Regions from separate parts of the Homo sapiens genome. Here region 2 is linked to region 1. The links come from fine-mapping of genetic effects on gene expression. Tissue or cell type: whole blood. Region 1 holds a variant in brackets; the other region holds the start of a gene. All regions are shown on one strand. Distances are between the middles of the regions.

Evidence for each region. PIP is the estimated chance that this variant, and not a neighbour inherited with it, causes the effect.
Region 2: TKT starts here. The variant in region 1 is fine-mapped to the expression of TKT in whole blood (INTERVAL, PIP above 0.99).

Annotation. Positions count from the first base shown.
Region 1 is chr3:53,334,590-53,342,692 of GRCh38, reverse strand. DCP1A (decapping mRNA 1A) reads left to right here. Exons shown (of 10, transcript NM_018403.7): 3 at 422-549. Among named protein-coding and RNA genes, the nearest start is that of SNORD38C, 5.5 kb to the right of the region's middle. The variant A/G (reference allele first, on the strand shown) is at 3,403.
Region 2 is chr3:53,252,530-53,260,632 of GRCh38, reverse strand. TKT (transketolase) reads left to right here and starts at 4,611. Exons shown (of 14, transcript NM_001064.4): 1 at 4,611-4,797. The coding sequence starts at 4,691. RefSeq lists silencers at 1,766-2,060, 4,325-5,014 and an enhancer at 1,766-2,060.

The sequences.
Region 1 (8,103 bases):
TCTGAACAAAGGCTTGGAGGAGATGAGATAGCTGTGCAGCTTCTGGGGCAGTAATCCAGGAAGAGGTTTTTAGGTAGAAGCACACACGCAGAGAGAGTGGCAAGGAGCCCGGTGTGGCTGGAGAGTAGGAGCTGGAGAAGAGCCATAGGAAATGAAGTCAGAGTGGGGAGTATATCAGGTGGGGCCTTGGTGGCCTCAGTAAGGACTTTGGCCTTTACTCTGAGAGACTGTCTTTGGAGACTTCTCGTCAGAGGAGGAGTATGATCTGACTTAAATTTTTTGTTTACAGATGTAAGTGCTGATAATATTGTATAATGTTCTAATGCATTCTTTTTTGAAATGAAAATAAAGTACATAGTAGATAACATTTCTACAGATTAAATGGTAACTACATATTTTTTTTTCTTCTATTAAATCTAAGGTCAGCTTCCCCTTACCATGGTTTTACCATTGTGAATCGACTAAATATGCACAATCTAGTTGAACCAGTGAATAAAGATTTGGAATTTCAGCTCCATGAACCATTTCTTCTGTATAGAAATGCAAGCTGTGAGTATATCTGTTTTATTATAGTTATTACATTTAAAATTGAGTGACTTTAGTTTCTATCAATCCATTATTTAGGAAGTTTCAAATTACAAAACAAAATATGGTCTCTACTTAATGATTATAAATGAGTCTGTTGGAAAGATCAAACCTTTTAAACTGGGCTCTGAGGCCAGAGGTGGTGGCTCATGCCTGTAATCCCAGCACTTTGGGAGGCCGAGGAGGGCAGATCACTTGAGGTCAGGAGTTCGAGACCAGCCAGGCCAACATGGTGAAACCCCGTATCTACTAAAAATACAGAAAAAAATTAGCCGGGCTTGGTGGCAGGCGCCTGTAATCACTTGAACCTGGGAGGTGGAGGTTGCAGTGAGCTGAGATCGCGCCACTGTACTCCAGCCTGGGCAACAGAATGAGACTGTGTCTCAAAAAAATAAATAAATAAACTGGGCTCTGAAACTGGAAACATTCTTTTGTATATAATTTAGTTTACTATTTCATTTAATAGCACTACATTTCTGTTGTCGGTTTATTAAAATAAGGTTTATGCCTTTGTTTTTTTGCAGCTGTGGACTATCAGCTGCCCATGTCCCTAAGCAACAGAACTTAGTTTGGGACACACAGGATGGGAACAGATACAGATAATTCTTTCCACAAAGAAAGTATTATTATTACTATTATTATTTTCTTTTTTTTGAGACGGAGTCTTGCTCTGTTGCCCAGGCTGGAGTGCAGTGGTGTGATCTAGGCTCATGCAAGCTCTGCCTCCCGGATTCATGCCCTTCTCCTGGCTCGGCCTCCCAAGTAGCTGGGACTACAGGCACCCGCCACCACGCCTGGCTAATTTTTTTGTATTTTTGGTAGAGAAGGGGTTTCACCGTGTTAGCCAGGATGGTCTTGATCTCCTGACCTTGTGATCTGCCTGCCTCGGCCTCCCAAAATGCTGGGATTATAGGCATGAGCCACCACGCCCGGCCAGAAAATATTATTTTTGCCCAGAATAGTGGTGATGGGTTTTTTTTTTTAAGATATTTATTACTTTTTCTACTTTATTTTGTCTGAATATGTTTCTAAGTAAGGTTTTTCTATCTGTTTATTTAATTGAGTGTCTACTGGTTACCAGCACTGAGCCAAGAGCTGTGGTGCTTTAATGTTAACGATACAGTTACCTATGTGGTGTAAGCAGGCAGTTAAGTCAACTGAGACTCAGAGATGCATAACTATTACCCTGTTGGAGAGTTAGGATTATGACTATTCTTCTGCTTTTTAGTCCAGGGTTCTTTCAGGCATTTTTACAATCTCTAATAACGATTGGATGTAGTCAGCAAAGCTAGAGTGGCCCTTCCAAGAAACTACAGTACTAAAAAATATACTTGATTCCAGTGTATTAGTATGGATATTGAAGGTATGGGTGTTTGAGGACAGTTTGTTGGACATTGACTATAGGGATATGAAAACTGGTTATGGTAACAATGATTGTGCTCTAATTGGCATCTAAGGATATAGTTGGAGAAATGTTGCTTCTAACTTAAAAAGTAAAAGTTAATGTGTTTGAATTTCACTTGGCGGGGGGGTAATTGGTCTTGGGGGATGTCTTCAGTATAAAATAGAAAAAGTTACTAAAAATTATACACCTCTTAATTCCCTGAATGAGAAGTAACAAGGCCTATTTTAAAGCTAGAAACCCCCAAGTTCTTTTCCGTAGCACACTTTGAAGTATAAGTGAAATAGGTTCTATCTTTTGACTTCTCAGTAAACTATTTGTCCAGGTAATTACCTCTCAGATTTTAAATTCTGTGGACATATTAGACATGCTTTGTAATAGCTGTAAGTTCAGATGGATTTATTTAAACTAATGTTAACAATGTAATTATTTCAGATTGCTCTTTTCTTTGTACTGAATATTCCATTAAAGGGAAAATTCGGCTGGGCAAAGTGGCTCAACACCTGCAATCCCACGATTTTGGGAGACCGAGGCAAGCAGATTGCTTGAGCCCAGGAGTTTGAGACCAGCCTGGGCAACATGTCAAAACCCCCACTCCACAAAAAAATAGAAAAATTAGCCAGGTGTGGTGTCACACACTTGTAGTCCCAGCTACCCAGGAGGCTGAGGTGGGAAAGTCGCTTGAACCCAGGAGGCTGTCCAGGCTGCAGTGAGCCATGATTGCGCCACTGCACTCCAGCCTGGGCAACAAGCGAGACCCTGACTCAAAAAATGAAAAGAGGGTGGGAGAAATTCTGCAAATGAATATGGATCCAATTTTTTTTTAAGTGAAATAGGCTTAATTCTGTTCTTTACTGCCTGGAAACTTAATCTAGCCATCACTCCTAAGTGGTTTGATTATTAAAGTAGTCAGTAGGGAAAGTTATCCGGACCCAGTTACCATTTAGCATAAACCTGAGATGAATTGTATTATATTTTTTTCACAAGGCAAAAGTCCTGTGAAATTGAAAGTGTGACATAACACAAATGTAATTGAACCATGAGTAACCAGAAGCTAACTAATTAGAGCTTCAGTTGTCTGGAAATATTTTTATAGTTCGTGTGTGGAAGAAATGAAGGCAAATTATAAGAAAACAAGCTAATACTAGGTTTTATTTTCTGAAAATCAAGCAGATATCCAGAGAATAACCTGGGGTCGGCATTAAAATGTCAATATTTTATAACTTTAACTCCACTGTAGTATCATAGGTTAAATTGTTATAGTGAGACCTAAAATCATCAGGAGTATTTATTATGTTAACTAGAACATTCTTGGGGAGAAAGTGCATTAATGCATTTTACTTTAGAAAATTTTCAACTGATTGAAACAAAAGTTTTCTTAGTTGAACAGAAAACTCACTTAACCAGGTCATTTC[A/G]TTAGGGAAAGTATTTAAAGGAATAGCTGTATTGGGGAGAAGTGATAAGACAACAGAAAATGATTTTGTGAGTGTTAAGCCCTCTCGAGTGTGTGTTTTGTCTACATAGTCTTAAAAGTGGAAAATAGTCTTGTCAGGTCAGCGAGCTATTAAGTTGTTTAGGGATTTGTTCTTTAAATAAAAAGTTAGTATCTGATTATGCATACAGGTAATTATACCTGATTCTATAGCTGCACTTCTGCCATTCTCTTGTGGGAAATACCATCAAGACACCTGACCCATTTAACTCAAGTGACACCTTCATATCCAACTTCTTTCATTCAAATTAATTTTTGGAGTTAATGTACTAGAACAGTGAACCATAACTTTTTTTCAGTTCTAAGTTATTTGTTTTATTTATTTTTAAGAGTTTTTCTTTTTTTTTTTTTTTGAGACGGAGCCTTGCTCTGTCACCCAGGCTGGAGTGCAGTGGCATGATCTTGGCTCACTGCAAGCTCTGCCTCCCAGGTTCACGCCATTCTCCTGCCTCAGCCTCCCGAGTAGCTGGGACTACAGGCGCCCACCACCACGCCCGGCTAATTTTTTCTATTTTTAGTAGAGACGGGGTTTCACCGTGTTAGCTAGGATGGTCTCGATCTCCTGACCTCGTGATCCACCTGCCTTGGCCTTCCAAAGTGCTGGGATTACAGGAGTGAGCCACCGCGCCCAGCCAAGAGTTTTTCTTTATAAAACATGCCCATCTACACCCACCCCACCCCTCAAGAAAAAGATAAAATCTTAAAGAGAAAATTCTTACACTGACTAAGGGCTTAGGCTTGGTGATTCTCTTAAATCTTTGTGGGGTAGTGGTGGTGGTGGTGGTGGTTGTTTTCAAAAGACAAGGTCTCACTGTGTTGCCCAGGCTGGTCTTGAACTCCTGGGCTCAAGCAATTCTCCCGCCTCAGCCTCCCGAAGTGCTAGCATGGGCCACCATGTCCAGCCTCTTGAATCTTTTGGGAACAGTGTATTTTTATTCTGTGCAAGGGCCTTTTGGCAGTCACAAGACCCCAGTGGGATTGCAATGAATTATGGGGAGGTTATAAATTCTGGAGTTATTGAGTAGCAGTGGTATTTCTAGCACCTTATTTCTGATCCTCAACTTACAGGTTGAGAAAACAAGAGGCTCAGAGCTGTTTAGGAATCTGCTCGAGATTCGCAAAGGTAATAAGTGACAGATGGAGAATTTGGGAGTAGGTCTTTCGGGCTTCAAGGCCAATGTTCTTTCCACTCTACTGTAACAATAAAATTACTTCATCAATCCATATTCTAGAGTAGTGCTATCCACTAAAACTTTGCAATTAGGGAAAATGATAGTTCCGTGTCAGCACTGTCCCATATAGTAGCCTGCAATGTGGCTAGGGCAAATGAAGAACACTTCTTTTTAGTTTATTTAATTTAATATATTAGAATTTACATGGCTGTATGTGCTGGCAGCTGCCATACTGGACAGTGGAAGTCTCAGCATGAGCTCATGTGCTAACATGCTCTTTGTTGTGCCATACCTGAATCAAACAACTACTTGGGAAGCTTTGGCTTAGATTTTTATGCGTCCTATTTAGTCATTCCTTTTTGAAACTTACAAATGATTTCTAGATACAAAAGCTGCAGAATATATCCCTGAGGGTGGCTTTGCCATGGTAACATTCTTTTGGCATGGAATTTAGTTTGCAGATAAGAATTCTATTCTGGGCTTTGCCTTACTGACTATAACCTTGGCTAAATCATTTAAACCACTGATTTGACCTATTTATCTTAAAAGGCCATCATGAAAGTAAGGTATTTTGTTAGGCATTTACAAATACAAAATATCATAGACTGTGTCTCCATTCTAGACTCAACAAATGATCTCATTAGTGAAAGAATCCTAGGGACATCAGTGTTATCCACACCTGGCCTATCCAGATTCTCTTATAACACAGGCCTGTGATATGCTTCTTCCTATCCCTTCTGATAGTACCATGCATGAGCTGCAGGCTCTTTGTGTCTCTTTACAAGTATTATTTTCAAATGTTGTAGGGGCCATTACTAGAAAGCCTGAGGTATACATTGGAAAAATATATATATTAAAAATGAGAAGTCTTGGCCAGGTATGGTGGCTCACGCCTGTATCCCAGCACTTTGGGAGGCCAAGGCGGGTGGATCACCTGCGGTCAGGAGTTCAAGACCAGCCTGGCCAACACGGCGAAACCCCATCTCTACTAAAAATACAAAAAAATTAGCCGGACATGGTGGTGCACGCCTGTAGTCCCAGCTACTTGGGAGGCTAGGCAGGAGAATCGCTTGAACCCAGGCAGTGAAGGTTGCAGTGAGCCTAGATGGCCCCTTGGCACTCCAGCCTGGGAGACAGAGCAAGACTCCATCTCAATAAATAAATAAATAAATAAATAAATAAATAAATAAATAAATCTGGGCTTTGGGTTAGAAGGAAGATGTCTTCCTAAAAAATAACCATGGGACTTCCCTCATACAAATTTAAGGTTCAAGTTGTACCATTCATTTAGTATCATTTCTTACCCAGGTCAAGAAATTAACATAAAATTAATCATCAGCTGGTGATTACTCTACGGCATCTGGCAGAAGCAAATGTAGATCCCTTCTGGCAAGATACATTCTTAGCCCAGCCAGGTTGCCCAGGAATATCAGGCATGTCTCATGGTCTAAAATTACTAAATATACAAGGAAATACTTTGCAGTGAATGAAAGGTAGCATATAACAAACAGCAGGATTATACAACCCTTCCCAAAGACTTTAGTTCATGGAAACTAGAGACTCTAATGGATGTAAATACCAGATACAGATTATAAAATAAAGTAAAAAGAACAGCAAATGTGAAAAAAGAATAAAGGCCCTGTGCGGTGGCTCACGCCTGAAATCCCAACACTTTGGGAGGCCGAGGCAGGTGGATCACCTGAGGTCAAGAGTTCGAGACCAGCCTGCCCAACATGGTGAAACCCCATCTCTACTAAAAATAGAAAAAATTAGCCTGGCGTGGTGGCAGACACCTGTAATCCCAGCTACTCGGGAGAGACTGAGTCAGAAGAATCGTTTGAACCCGGGAGGCAGAGGTTGCAGTGAGCCAAGATCATGCCACTGCACTCCAGCCTGGGCAACAAGAGCTAAACTCCATCTCAAAAAGAAAAGAATAAAATGCTGCCAGGCACAGTGGCTCACACTTGTAATCTCAGCACTTTGGGAGGCCAAGGCGAACAGATCACTTGAGCCCAGGAGTTCAAGACCAACATGAGCAACATGGCGAAACCCTGTCTCTATAAAAAATACAAAAAATTAGCCGGGTGGACCTGGGAGGCTGAGGTGAGAGAATCACCTGAGCCCGCGAGGTTGAGGCTGCAGTGAGCCATGATCACGCCACTGCGCTCCAGCCTGGGTGATAGTGAGACCCTGTCTCAAAAAATAAAAGAATAAAAAAGAATTAAATGCTATTAAAAAAAAGGAAGATTTGAAAAATTGCTGAGTAGAACTAATAGAAATTAAAATTTTAATTGAAAGATACTCTCTACTTGGATTCAACAGTTAATTGGTAATAGCTGAAAAGAGAATTGGTGAGCTAGAAGATATATCTGAGGAAATCCAGAATGTATCCAAAAAAAGGACAAAATGGAAATATGACAGAGTGATTAGAATTATAAACTCTAACATTTGATGGATAAGAATTTCAGAATGATAAAGCAGATTTGTAGAGAGGCAATATTTGAAGCGTTGATGACTGGGAATTTTCCAGAATCCATAAAAGACATAAATCTCAGATTTAAACAATAGAATGAGCTCCAAGCATAAAACATAGAAATATTAGCCGGACACTATGGCTCACGCCTGTAATCCCAGCACTTTGGGAGGCCTAGGCAGGCTGGATCACTTGAGGTCAGGAGTTCGAGACCAGTCTGGCCAACATGGTGAAACCCCACCGCTACTAAAAATACAAAAATTAGCTGGGCCTGGTGGCGGGCACCTGTAATTCCAGCTACTCAGGAGGCTGAGGCAGGAAAATCGCTTGAACCCGGGAGGTGGAGGTTGCAGTGAGCCGGGATGATGCCACTGCACTCCAGCCTAGGTGACAGAGTGAGACTCTGTCTCAAAAAATAAATAAATAAAAATAAAAAAAATATATATATATACACATGCGCGTGCACACACACACACACACACCCAGACACATTCTGATGAGATGTCAAAGGCAGAGACAGAAGCAACCAAAGGTTGCTCAAGATTGGGTGTTTACAAAGGAACACCAGTTAGACTGACAGCATATTCCATAGTTGCAGCTACTGAGTTTAGAAGACAAAAGAATAATATATTGAGAGGACTGAAGAAAAAAAAAAACCAATAATTCAGTAATCGAAGAGAACAAAATAAAGATACTTTTCAACAAAAACAACAGCAGTTGTCTCCCCAGATTCTTGCTGTAGGAGCTCCCACAGCAGTGCTGTCAGTGCAGTAGCCACATGTGTCTATTGAGCATTTGCAGCGCGTGACGGGTAAAAGCAGACAACTGGTTTTTCTCTTTCTTACAGCCAAACGCTCCACAGTATAACATGATTAATTGAAAATATTAAGATGCAGGCTTGTGGTACCATCAAGCTCTATGAAATTGGTTCTGGCTTTTAATGATTTTATTTTGTAAAAAACAGTAACAAACTAGAAGC
Region 2 (8,103 bases), 82 kb after region 1:
GGATTCGTCATGCCCGGCCCAAGTGCAGCCCCCTCTGGGTCCCCAAAGTACAGGGGACATGAAGAGGTGGGACATGACTTCCTGACACTGCCAGTCTCTTATGCAAGGTGCCCCTGCCCAGTATGGCTAGACCGGTCCTGGCATTTCAGGCTGAAGGGCAATTCAGAACTCTCTGCTTCACATTCCACTCTAGGCAGCCAGTACAATCCATCAGCACTGCCTTGGTGATCAAAGCCATTGCCCAGGAACAATACTGGGTGGCATGGCACCCCTCAGGACCCCAACCCCCCTCAGGTCCCTTTTAGTGATACTGGAGATCCCTGGGGAGTGGCTGTGGGGGACTCTTACGTGGGGACTCACACTGTTCTGGCTCCTCTAAGGGTGACCTTCTCCCTAGTGCTGCACGGGTCCTGGGGGACAGCTCAGATTCCAGAATGTGGCTCTGCTCTCAGGTCACTGTGGCCTCTGCTGGCACCTGATGCCGGCAGTAGGACATTTCTGCCACTTCCTACCCTCCAACAGAGCACCTTTGTGTCTCGGTTTCTGGAAAGGCCGGAATGAAGGACACCAGTCTGAATGGCCAGATTCCCTCCCCTGAGGCCTCCCTGATGCCCTCTTGGCTTGGGTGCAGCCCTGGCACTTGCTGACTCTGTGTCCTCAGGCACATCACTTGACATTCATGCTTTCATTCTGCAGGCATTCATTGAGCCCCTATTGTATATGAGACCCAGTTGTAGTCCCTGCGGATAGAGCCAGGGACAAGAGATTGTATTCCGGCTCTCCGGGAGCTGACCAAAGATCATGCAGATAGGCAGAGAGCCCTGCAGAGACCAAGACAGGCAGTGTGATGGGCAGCATGGCTCTAGATCCAGGCCATGTGAGGAGCCTCAGGAAGGGCTCTGCTGGCTCAGGGAGCAGCCTGTGCAAAACCTCTAGGAGGGAGTGGGCTTGGTATTTTTTAAGGAATGCGAGGTCAGTGTGGCTGAGATGGGTAGGGCTGGGGGACCTGAATTATATCCAAAGGGTGGAGGAAGAACAACATGGGAGTTAAGCTGGGGAGGAACACTTCTCTGGCAGCCATGGGGAGGGTGAACAGGAGGCTGAGAGAGGATGGGGTGTGAGGGCAGCAGGGAGCCAGATGTTAGCTGGAAGCCAGACAGGATCCCAGGGCTTTCTTCCAAGTGCCATGTGACTTCTGAGGCGTGAGGGTTCGAATAAAGACCCTGGGACCTGGGGACAAGGGAACCACCCTGGACAAACTGGGTGCTAGCAACACCTCCAGCTAGCCTAGGATTCTGGTTCTGAAGCTGACCTTCAGGAAGACCAAGAGCTCTTGAAATAAGGCTGAACCCTTGGGCCCTGTGAAAGGGAAAACACTCAAACTCTGTTTTTCCTCTGTTCTCACACCACAACAATTAACACAAAAGACTCCTGTGATCAAATGTGTGGGGGTTTCTCCCCATGCACCAAGCAAGCAACCAATTCTGCAGCAACACCAGCTGGGTGTCCTCCAACTCTATTCCATTCTGATGCTAATTACCTGGAGATAGCCTCAGAAACCACAGGTTAAGGATTCAGTCCCCCAAGAGCACCTCCTCCTTCCCATGAGTCGCAAGATTGGGACTGACCAGCTTCAAGTTGGGGTTCCCACCACTCCCTCTTTGGGTTCAATTAATTTGCTAGCGCAGCTCTCAAAACTCAGGAAAGCACATTTATCGGTTAGTTACAAAGGATATTTTAAAGGAGACAAAGAAACAGTTAGGCAAAGAGATACATAGGCGGAGGCCTGGAAAGGTCCCTAGTGAAGGAGCCATTGTCTCCATGGAGCTGGAATGTTCCACCCTCCCAGCACGTGGATGAGTTCTTGTTCACCTTCCTGTGAGCCTCCACGTGTTCCGCTGTCCAGAAGCTCCTGAACCCTGTCCTCTTGAGCCTTTCATGGACATTTCATTGGACAGACATGATTGACAACCTTGTGGAAATGTGATTAGACCAAAAGTATATGATCTAATACTAACTGACTGAGTGGGGAAACCCCGCAAGACCTGTGTGTCCTGACTCTTCTTGACCTCTCTGTGAAGCTCACTGTCTGGTAAAAGGGCAGACTCTTGAAACCTTTTGAAAACTCTGTGCCATCCAACTCTGTGGCCCTTAGGACAGTGGCTCCCTAAGGGAGTGGCCTCAATTTCCCCATCTGCCTAACGGGACTCATCCTTATCACTCTGCACCCACTCTGGTCTTCCCTCCTCATGGGTATGGGACAGAACCCCTTCTCATGGGGGTCTAATGACCTACAATTACACGAGGTAGGTGAGAGAACTTACTTATGGCCAGCTCCAAGACAGACCGGCAGGAGAAGATCCTGCCATGGGGAGAGAAAGGAGCAGGTGAAAGGAAGGTAGGAGAAGGCCTGAGAGACTCTGTTTCTGGGGTCTGCTCCTGAGGTCTAAAGCACCCCAGTGGTATAACAAGGGTTGGGGGCAGTTCTAAGCCAGGGGCCTGTATATGCATATCATAGTATCACAGGCCCCATTCATGTGGAACACCAGGAGGAGAGAGAGCCTCCCTGAGGTCCCTGGAGCTCCAGGTGGTGGGGAGGGGACAATTTTCTTTCCATTACTCCTAGGTCCCCAGAGCCATGGTGAGTTCTGTGCCATTGTCAGAGACCAGAGTGATAAGGATGAGTCCCATTAGGCAGATGGGGAAATGGAGTCCACTCCCTTAGGGAGCCACTGCTCTAAGGGCCACAGAGTTGGAAGGCACAGAGCTTTCAAAGGGTTTCAAGGGTTTGCCCTTTTTCCAGACAGTGAGCAGCTTGAGGGCAGAGGTGGCACCTGCCAGGCATCTGAGGGTGGCACACTGTGGGGCCCCCCTCCAATCCTAGCCCATAGCCCTCACCAGCCAGACACCATAGGGCCAGCCTCTGCGGGCTGGGCCAGCAGGAGCCAGGTGCTATGGGATGCCATACTTAGGGTCTGATTGGGCATCTGGGGGTCAGGCCAGCAGAGGAGCACCTGGAGGCGAGCTGGGGGACTCACTCAAATTCAGTCAATCGCCTCATGAGCCAGAGCTCTCTGAGTATGGGCAATGCAGGGAGGACACAGAGGACACAGGGCGGCCACTGGTGCCTCTTGGATCTCTCAGGGTTTTAGCTCCCTGCCCAGCCATCCGTTTGAGGGTCTTGCCTTTATCTTTCCTCTGTCAAATGGAGCTTCTTCCTCTGTAAAATAGGCATTGTAGGCAGTATGTACCTCACTGGCCAAGTGTGGTGGGCAGATTGAATGAAACAGTGTCTGTGATGAAAGTCCCCTCCCTAATCCCACTCTGGGGAGCTTCATACCTCTGGGAACCATGGGGTCTGATAACAGTAGTGGTGGGTGCCCCTGTCCCTACAGACCTGGAAGCAAACCCAATAATCTCCCTAAAAGTCAGTAGTGTTTCTAGGCCCTAATAATTTGTAAAGGATCTTCCCCTAGTAATTTCTCAGTTATCATCACCTGGCATTGTCATGGCTACCACTATCCTATTCTCATTTTCAATAATCCCCATCCCCTGTGCAGGGCTCTAAAGCCCTGAGTGGCTGGGCATGGTGGCTCATACCTATAATCCGGCACTTTGGGAGGCAGAGGAGGGCAGATGGCTTGAGCCTAGGAGTTCAAGACCTGCCTGGGTAAAGTGGCAAAACCCCATCTCTACAAAACATACAAAAATTAGCCGGGCGTGGTAGTGTGTACCTATGGTCCCAGCTACTTTTGAGGCTGAGGCAGAAGGATCACTTGAGCCCAGGAGGCTGAGGCTTCAGGCAGCTGTAATCACTCCACTGCATTCCAGCCTGGGTGACCATGGGTGACCCCGTCTCAAAGAAAAAACAAGTTTTTTAATTATTAGAAAAAAGAAATAGGGCCTGGTGCGGTGGCTCACCCCTGTAACCCCAGCACTTTGGGAGGCCGAGGCGGATCACCTGAGGTCGGGAGTTCAAGATCAGCCTGACCAACATGGAGAAACCCCGTCTCTACTAAAAATACAAAATTAGCTAGGTGTGGTGGCGCATGCTTGTAATCCCAGCTACTAGGGAGGCTGAGGCAGGAGAATTGCTTGAACTCAGGAGGCGGAGGTTGTGGTGAGCCAAGATCATGCCATTGCACTCCAGCCTGGGCAACAACAGCGAAACTCAGTCTCAAAATTAAGTCCTGCAGTCTCTTGGGCCTGGGGTTGGTCGGCTGGGGCCAAGCCTGGCACCCACCAGCCTTGTGACCTTGATTGCCCTTGCCAAGCCTCAGTTTGTCCATCTCTAAAATGGGATTCGCCGTGACAAGTCCACGGAGGACTGTGTGGAGGAGGGAGACTGAGAGGCTTTCGAGTCAGGAGCCCAGACTCGAATCCTGAGTTGTTCGTTATGTTATTATTATTGGTGTGTGTGGTTAACTGCTAACCTCGCAGTCCGCAGCGGCCCAGCGCCTAGGGGAGGGGAGCGGGCAGGAGGCGGCCCCAGGCGGGGCGGGGCTGAAGGCCTGGGGTGATCCGAGCCCCGCCTCCTCCCCCTGCCCCGCCTCTCCCATCCCCGCCCCGCCCCGCCCGGCGACTTAACGCGCCCCCGCCCCGCGCCCGGCCTCGGCAGCCGCCTGTCGCCGCGGGAGCAGCCGCTATCTCTGTGTGTCCGCGTGTGCGCCCGGTCCCCGCCTGCCGCACCATGGAGAGCTACCACAAGCCTGACCAGCAGAAGCTGCAGGCCTTGAAGGACACGGCCAACCGCCTACGTATCAGCTCCATCCAGGCCACCACTGCGGCGGGCTCTGGGTGAGTGCGCGGCGCCGGCCGGGGACGCGGCTCGGGCGGGGCGGGGGGCGTCTGCGGCGGCCAGAGTCGCCGCGGGCTCTGGGTCGCGCTGCGAGATGCCTAGACGAGGAAGGTGGCCCGGGCGCCGTCGGAGGGCGGAGACGCGCGCCTCGCAGGGCCCCGGGCTGCAGGCGGCTTCCGCTGCGCCGCACACTCGCCCTACGCCCGGGCTCGGCCGCGTGGGCCTCTGGTCCTCCGTGCGCCTCAGGCCGGCTCTTCCCCACGCGGATCGCCGGCCGCGCAGCTGCATGGTGGCGCGGGGGATGGGCTCGCGACTCGCCAAGTACCCTCTAGGGTGATGCCGGGAAGGCCACCATTACTGCTGTTCTACAGAACGCGGCCCTCTTAACCCTCTCCACCACCTGGCTGTGTGGGCGCCGCCGGGAGTGTTCCCCCTTCCAGATGGGGAAACGGAGGCTCCGAGTTAGTCAGCTACCCAAAGTTACACACAGGGAGATCTGATTTGAGCCCCAGCAGTCCGACTCTAGAGACCCTGTTTTTAATTCCTCTTGCAGGAGACTCGGGGGCCCGGCCTTCTCCCCACCTCAGACTACGCTCCCCTACCCCTGTCTCCTGCCACCCCTGGGTTGGGTCCGAGTTTGGAGCAGGGGGCTGCTGAGACGCCAGGCAGCGGCGGGGCTGATTGGGGGAAGAGGGGAGGAGGGCGGTGGCACGTGGGTGCAGAACCCTGGGATCCATTGTGAAAAGGAGGTCTAAGATTTGACCTGGGGCGGGAGGAGGCGGAGGGCAAGGAGACTGAGAAGGCTGAGCGCCGGAAGGACGGAGTTCCAGGGCCCTAGCGCCGGGAGTGACGTCCTGGGGCAGGGCCAGCCACCAGGTGCTGTATCTCCCAGGCAGGAGCTGGCGTGCCTAGGCCCCAAGATCCTTCCCTGGCCAGCCCTTTTGGCCCAGAAGGTGGACACCCAAGGAGCCTCCTCTGTAGCGGAGACAGGGATAATTAATGAGGGCCACCGTGCATGCAGCTGGAGGTGTCCAGTGGGGTGGGTGAGGGGGTCAGTCAGTGAATTACTTCAGAGCCTGCTTCCCGCTCTGTAAAGCGGGGACAGTAATGGCACTTAACCACGCTGGGTGGTTTCAAGGACTCCAGTGCTCTACTTGGAGGCTGCTTTGAGGCCACAGTGCCAGCAGTGCTCCGGGCTCATGACAGGGTTGTGAGGGCTGCGTGATGGATGATTTCTCGGGACCTTCCCAAACAAGCTCTGTTTCAGACAGACAAGATTCTGGCTTCTGGCCAATTTCATTCAGGATATATTATTAAGAAGTAAATCTGTTCACCTTTCTGGGTGGATACGCATTCACCCTTTGTGCCTCTAAGACACCCTGTTCTCAGAAGGGATTAGATGTCTTTCAAAGCCCTTCCCCCACCCACTGCCTTGCACACTTTGGACCTGTTAGCTCTCCTGGGTTTGTGTCAGTCTTACCACTTATGTGGGGTATCCCCTGCCTGGGCAGGGACCTGGCTTACTCTCAGCTCCCCTTTCACCAGCCTGGCACACGGTAGCTCTGCAGGCCTTGTATTGCTTATTTGGTACTGTTGGACCTGCTACCTTTGGCCGTTTCAGGGGGTCTGAGGTCTAGCTGGAGAGAGGCAGCAATTACCCAACTAAGTAGTATTGCACATCTGAGCATCTTTCAGGGCTAGATAAAACATGCAGATGTTTACAGGGTTCCTGAGCTGCCAAGTAGGTATCTGGTATGACACAGCATCATCGTTTGTTGCATCCTGAGAATAACCCTGTGAGATAGATTGTGTTGTATTCACATTTTATAGACGGGAACACTGAGGCTAGTGTGTTAAGTTACTTGCCCAGGCTGGGAATTGGTGGCCATTCCGTACTGTCTGGTTGGGGCTCATGCTGTCAGGAATGCTTCTTGGCAGGGCATGGTGGTTCATGCCTGTAATCACAGCACTTTGGGAGGCCAAGGTGGGAGGATTGCTTGAGCCCAGGAGTTCCAGACCAACCTGGGCAACACAGTGAGACCCCATAGCTTAAAAAAAAAATTTTTTTTTTGAGATGGAGTCTTGCTCTATCGCCCAGGCTAGAGTGCAGCAGCACAATCTTGGCTCACTGCAACCTCTGCCTCCCAGGTTCAACTGATTCTCCTGCCCTAGCCTCCTGAGTAGCTGGGACTACAGGCATCCGCCACCGCACCGGCTAATTTTTGTATTTTTAGTAGAGATGGGGTTTCACCATCTTGGCCAGGCTGGTCTCTTGACCTCAGGTGATCCACCCACCTCGGCCTCCCGAAGTGCTGGGATTACGAGTGTGAACCACTGCCCCCGGCCAAACATTTTTTTTAATTGGCTAGGTGTGGTGATGTGTACCTGTAGTCCCAGCTACATGGGAGGCTGAGGCAGAGGATCACTTGAGCCCAGGAAGTTGAGGCTGTAGTGAGCCTTGAACATGCCACACACTGCAGCATGGGTGACAGAGTGAGACTGTGTCTCAAAAGAAAGAAAGAGAGAGAGAGAGAAAGAAAGAAAGGCCAAGAAAAGAAAAATAGTTGGGCATGGTGTTACATGTATGCCAGCACTTTGGGAGGCCAAGGCAGAAGGTTCGCTTGAGGCCAGGAGTTCAAGACCAGCCTGGGTAACATTAGCAAGACCCTGTCTCCAAAAATAAATAATGTTTCGGCCAGGCGCAGTGACTCATCCCTTTAATCCCAGCACTTTGGGAGGTGTAGGCGAGTGGATCACCTGAAGGTCAGGAGATCGAGACCAGCTTGGCCAACATGGTGAAACCCTGTCCCTACTAAAAATACAAAAAATTAGCTGGACGTGGTGGCGGGCGCCTGTAATCCCAGCTACTCAGGAGGCTGAGGCAGGAGAATCACTTGAACCCGGGAGGCAGAAGTTGCGGTGAGCTGAGATTGCACCATTGCACTCTGGCCTGGGCAACAAAATTGAAACTTCTTCTCAAAAAAAAAAAAGAATGCCTCTTGGGCAAGCAGTCTGTGCCAGGCTGGAGAATGGTGAAAAAGGTGAAAGGGAAGGCCAGGTACAGCCGCGGTGGATATTAGTCAGTCTGAAAGGCACTTGGAGAGAAATAAGATTTACAAATGTAGGGTGCTCCAAAAGAGTGGAATGTCAAGTGTGTCTCCTAGTTCTTTGTTAGGCAAAGTCTGATTTCCTCACCGCCGTTACCCCTCCGGAAACATACTGTGGTGTCCGAGAGTTACACCATGTTTACATTGTAATGTCTTGGAGAGGGAAGCTCACTGAACTCAAAAAATATCCATTTGCAA